Regions from separate parts of the Homo sapiens genome. Here region 2 is linked to region 1. Evidence: fine-mapped expression QTL. A gene starts in region 1. The other region holds a variant in brackets. All regions are shown on one strand. Distances are between the middles of the regions.

What was found.
Region 2: its variant is fine-mapped to the expression of STAP2 in stomach (GTEx, PIP 0.90).

Annotation. Positions count from the first base shown.
Region 1 is chr19:4,337,596-4,340,498 of GRCh38, forward strand. It overlaps STAP2 (signal transducing adaptor family member 2), which reads right to left and starts at 1,232. Exons shown (of 13, transcript NM_001013841.2): 1 at 1,057-1,232. The coding sequence starts at 1,158.
Region 2 is chr19:4,267,216-4,270,118 of GRCh38, forward strand. YJU2 (YJU2 splicing factor homolog) reads left to right here. Exons shown (of 8, transcript NM_018074.6): 7 at 409-559; 8 at 1,369-1,873. The coding sequence ends at 1,481. Among named protein-coding and RNA genes, the nearest start is that of SHD, 11 kb to the right of the region's middle. The variant G/C (reference allele first, on the strand shown) is at 1,331.

The DNA.
Region 1 (2,903 bases):
CAGCATTTAGAGAGGCCGAGACAGGTGGATCACCTGAGGTCAAGAGTTCAAGACCAGCCGGGCCAACAAAATGAAACACTGTCTTTACTAAAAATACAAAAATTAGGTGTGGTGGTGCGTACCTGTAATCCCAGCTACTCGGGAGGCTGAGGCACGAGAATCGCTTAATCGTTTGAACCTGGGAGGTGGAGGTTGCAGTGAGCCGAGATGGTGCCACTGCACTGCAGCCTGGGTGACAGAGTGAGACTCAGTCTCAAAAATAAATAAATAAAATAAAAGCCAGAAGAGGCAGTGCATGCCTGTGGTCCCAGCTACTCAGGAGGCTGGGGCGGGAGGTTCACTTGAGCCCAGGAGTTTGAGGCTACAGTGAGCCATGATCGTGCCCCTGCACTCTAGCCTGGGTGACAGAGCAACTCTGTCTCTAACAAAAAGAAAGAAAGAAAATGAATATGCGGCATTGGGAAGGAGAGATAGGGCCTCACGGGGAACGGAGGGGCTGGGACTTTATTCTGAGGGAGACATAAGCACACACACACACACACATGCACGCACTGTCCATGGCAACTATCTGTCCTGTGGAATGTGGCCCCCGCTAGCTCTTACTGTCCTCACATGTCACCTGTCCTGGCCTTCGCCCCAGCAGCTGAGGTTCACGGAGTTTTTCCTGGGCTGGGAGCGGGAGGAAGCTCGGGAGTCAGAGGACTCCCCATTTCCTGGAGGAAGTCCCTGATCTTGTTTGTATTCAAGAGAGTGAACGAGAGACAAAAGCAAAGATTGAGACAAAGAGAGAGGGAGACTGAGACAGACATCGGGAGAGACAGACGGGGCCAGGGAGAGAGAAAGAGAAAAAGAAACCAAATTCAAAGACACACGGAGACAGAGATAGACGCACAGAGAGGCAGATGGCCAGAACCCACCCCAGTCCCCCAGCACGTGTCCTGCCCCATCCAGCACCCACCCCGCCCCCCCTTGGCGAGTGGGGAGACAGGGACTCAGAGAGGTGCCGCAGCTCCCCACGGTGGCCCAGCAGGGCCAGCCCCCGCCTCCCCACCTTACCCGGTCACAGGGCCCCTTCTTCTCTAGAAAGCTCTCATAGTAGTGTGAAGGCAGGACACCCTTAGGCTTGGGGACACGGGGTGGCCTCAGGGCAGAGGCCATGACGGAGCCAGGGTCTTCCGCCTGGCCTCTCCTTCCAGTGGGTGCCCCAGCTGGGCCGGGAAGCTGAGAAACAGGTTTCAGGGGAGTTTCCTGTGTCAGCCCGTCAACTCCCTCCCCTGCCAGGGCTGGGCAGAGGCTGATCCCAGCAGGTCCAGTGATCCTAGGGAAATCCCCGCCTCTCCGGTGTGGAACTGAGAACAGAGAGAATGTATAAGTCTACTTGAATGGGAGAATAATCTTCGCTATATCTGCAAAGACAGAGACATGGTCTGTCTCTTTATTTATTTATTTATCTATTTTTCCTATTTTGAGACAGAGTTTCACTCTGTTGCCCAGGCTGGAGTAAAGTGGTATGATCTTGGCTCACTGCGACCTCTGCCTCCCGGGTTCAAGAGACTGCGCTGCCTCCCGGGTTCAGAGACTGAGTCCAAGCTCAGTCTCCTGACTAGCGTGGATTGCAGGTGACCGCCACCACGCCTGGCTAATTTTTGTATTTGTAGTAGAGACGAGGTTTCCCCATGTTGGCCCAGGCTGGTCTCGAACTCCTGACCCCAAGTTTTCTGCCCGCCTCAGCCTCCCAAAGTGCTGAGATTACAGGCATGAGCCACCACACCTGGCCCTTTCTCTTACTTTGATGGACCCTAATGATTACATTGGGCCCACCTGGATAATCCACGCTACTCTCCCTATTTTAAAGTCAGCTGACTAGCAACTTTAATTTCATCTGCAATTTTTCTTTTTTAGACGGTGTCTCATTCTGTTGTCGATGCTGGAGTGCAGTGGCACGATCATAGTTCACTGCAGCCCTGACCTCCCAATCTCAAGCGGTCCTCCTGCCTCAGCCACCCGAAGAGCTGGGACTATAGGTGGGCACCACCACACCCAGCTAATTTATTTTCCTTTTTTAAGGATGAGTTCTCACTATGTTGCCTAGGCTGGAGTACAGTGGGGCGATCATGACTCACTGTAGCCTCGACCTTACAGGCTCAAGTGATCCTCCAGCCTCAGCCTCCAGAGTAGGTGGTACTACAGTTGCATGCCACCACACCTGGCTAATTTTTTTTTTTCTTTTTTTTGAGACAGACTCTCGCTCTGTAGCCCAGGCTGGAGTGCAGTGGCGTGATCTCGGCTCACTGCAAGCTCCGCCTCCCAGGTTCATGCCATTCGCCTGGCTCAGCCTCCCAAGTAGCTGGGATTACAGGTGCCTGCCACCACGCCCAGCTAATTTTTACACTTACTAGAGACAGGTTCTTGCTATGTTGCCCAGGCTGGTCTTTTTTTTTTTTTTTTTTTGAGACAGAGTCTTACTCTGTCACCCAGGCTGGAGTGCAGTGGAGCGATCTCGGCTTACTGCAACCTCTGCCTCCCAGGTTCAAGCAATTCTCCTGCCTCAGCCTCCCGAGTAGCTGGGATTATAGGCACGTGCCACCATGCCCAGCTAATTTGTTTGTATTTTTATTTTAGTAGAGATGGAGTTTCACTGTGTTAGCCAGGATGGTCTTAATCTCCTGACCTTGTGATCCACCTGCCTCGACCTCCCAAAGTGCTGGGATTACAGGCATAAGCCACCGTGCCCGGCCCTCAGGCTAGTCTTGAACTCCTGGGTGCAAGTGATCCTCCAGTCTAGGCCTCCCAAAGTGCTGGGGTTACAGGTGTGTGCCACTGTGCCTGGCGTCTATCTTTAATCTTCAAATCCCTTTGCCACGTATCCTAACGTATTCACAGATTCTGGGAATTAGGGCGTG
Region 2 (2,903 bases), 70 kb before region 1:
GAGCGTGGACATGCAGCCTGCATGTGAGCTTGAACCATGATGGGCTTCTCAGAGGAGGGGTGTCTTGTGTTGGGTATTGAAGGGTGAGTAGGAGTTCACCAAGCGAGTGCATGGAAAAGGGGGCATCCCTGGTGAAGGGAATAGCATGGGTAAAGGCGTGGAGATGAGAAGCCATGGTGTGACTCAGGAAGTGCCAGACCAGGCTATGTGGGATGGAGAATGGGCAGAGGCCTTGAGTGCCAAGCCTAGGGCAGTGGGGAGCCATAGAGGAGTTTAGAGCAGAGGAGGAATGTGGTCAGTGCAGCAGTGGAAGAGTGGGCATGGGGCAGTGAGCAGGGGTTGTGGCGAGGGGCCAGACTGGGCCCTGGATCCGGGCCAGACCCCCACATGTGTCCCCATCACCTGCAGGCCCCAAAGCCCAAGAGGAAGGTGGAGGTCTGGGAGCAGAGCGTTGGCAGCCTGGGCAGCCGGCCCCCGCTGTCGAGGCTGGTCGTGGTGAAGAAGGCAAAGGCCGACCCGGACTGCAGCAACGGGCAGCCTCAGGCGGCCCCCACCCCAGGTAAGGTCACAGAGTTCCCAGAGCCGGGCGCGGTTTCTATAGTGGCCTGTAGGTGGCAGCAGCTCCCTTTGCAGTTACAGAGACTTCATGGGGTGGGTGGGGGCGGCCTGCGACCCCCACAGGACCAATTAGTGGAGTGAGCAGAGAAGGCAGGCGGCTTCTTTTTTTCTTTTTTCTTTTTTCTTTTTTTTTTTTTGAGACAGAGTCTTGCTCTGTTGCCCAGGCTGGAGTGCAGTGGTGCCATCTCGGCTCACCGCAACCTCCGCCTCCCTGGTTTGAGCAGTTCTCTGCCTCAGCCTCCCAAGTAGCTGGGACTACAGCACCACGCCCGGCTAAATTTTTGTATTATTAGTAGAGGTGGGATTTCTCCATGTTGGTCAGGCTGGTCTGGAACTCCCGACCTCAGGTGATCCACTCACCTCGGCCTCCCAAAATGCTGGGATTACAGGCATGAGCCACCGCGCCCGGCCTGTTTTTGTCTTTTAGTTGCCTTAGTATGATGTTTCCTAAGGCGATTAAGTCCACAGTGACTGGACTGTGAACTTTGCGCCATTTCCATTCTTGGCAGCGCACGTTGCCTGCCTGGGCAAGGTTTGCATTGGCCATTGTTCAGAAGCGGAGCTGTTGAGTCCCGGGTGTGCAGATGTAAATCTGCAATGGGTCCCATCAGGTGCCATCCAGAAAGGCCAGGCCATTCACATGCTGTCACCTCTGGACCTTGCAAACCTGCAGAGGTGGCCGGCCCCGTGCCTTGTCCCTGGCCTGTCTGCT[G/C]TGGAGCTGAGATGAGCTAACTCTCGCTCTCCCACCAGGAGCCCCGCAGAACAGGAAGGAGGCCAACCCTACACCCCTGACGCCTGGCGCGTCCTCCCTGAGCCAACTGGGTGCATACCTGGACAGTGACGACAGCAACGGCAGCAACTGAGCCCTCCCAGGACCCCCTCACGGGGTCAAAGTCACACGTCCAGCTTCAGCCACATTGAGGCCAGCATTGCTGGTGGTCAGGGCAGGAGGCCTTGGCGTGACTGGAGGCCGGACAGACAAGCGCCAGCGTGCTCCAACACATAGGGCCACCAGGGGCCTCAGCCCCAGGAGGTCCCTTCTCTGTGCCCTCACCAGCCTCTCAACACCTCGGGGACCCCTGCTGCTCCTGCCCCCACCTGTCACTGTGCTTAGGGCTGCAACATCCCTGGAGCAGCTTCCAACACTACTTCAGGGTGGCAGTGTTTGGGGCACTGGGCGAGCCTGCCGGCCTCTAGATGGCCTCATCTCTTCCTTCCACAAACTGTCTAGAACCAATAAAAGGAAACCTGCCAACCGCCTGGGCCCCTTCTCTCTCCCAGAGTCTGATGAGGAGGTCCCAGGACCTCCTCTGTTAGCACAATTCGAGGGTCATTCCACAGAGGTTTGTTTGTGTCTTGAGACAGGATCTCACTCTGTTGCCCAGGCTGGAGTGCGGTAGCGTATTCTTGACTCACTGCAGCCTTGAACTTCCGAGCTCAGGTGATCCTCCCACCTCAGCCTCGCGAGTCGCTGAGACCTCAGGTGGATGCCACCATTCCTGGCTAACTTTTTGTATATTTAGTAGAGACTGGGTTTCATCATGTTGCCCAGGCTGATCTTGAACTCATGGGCTCAAGTGATCCTCCTGCCTCAGCCTCACAAAGTGCTGGGGTCACAGGCATAAGCCACTGTAACAGGCATGAGCCCAGATATTTATATTTAGTTGTCGCCTGAGTGTGCATCTGGGCTCTTTTTGTTTTCTCTTCTTTTTTTTTTTCTTTCTTTACCTTTTTTTTTTTTTTTTTTTTTTGGAGACGACGTCTCGCTCTTGTCCCCCAGGCTGGAGTGCGATGGCGCGATCTTGGCTCACTGCAACCTCCGCCTCCCGGGTTCAAGCGATTCTCCTGCCTCAGCCTCCAGAGTAGCTGGGATTACAGGCGCCCGCCACCACGCCTGGCTTAATTTTTGTATTTTTAGTAGAGACAGGGTTTCACCATGTTGGCCAGGCTGGTCTTGAACTCCTGACCTCAGGTGATCTGCCTGCCTCAGCCTCCCAAAGTGCTAAGATTACAGGCCTGAGCCATTGTGCCCTGCCTGTACAATCTTTTTGTTTGTTTGTTTGAGACAGAGTCTCCCTCTGTTGCCCAGGCTAGAGTGCAGTGGTGTGATCTTGGCTCACTGCAACCTCCACCTCCCAGGTTCAAGCAATTCTCTGCCTCAGCCTCCCCAGCAGCTGGGATTACAGGTGCCTGCCACCACGCCCAGCTAATTTTTGTGTTTTTAGTAGAGACGGGTCTCACCATCTTGGCCAGGCTGGTCTTGAACTCCTGACCTCAGGTGATCT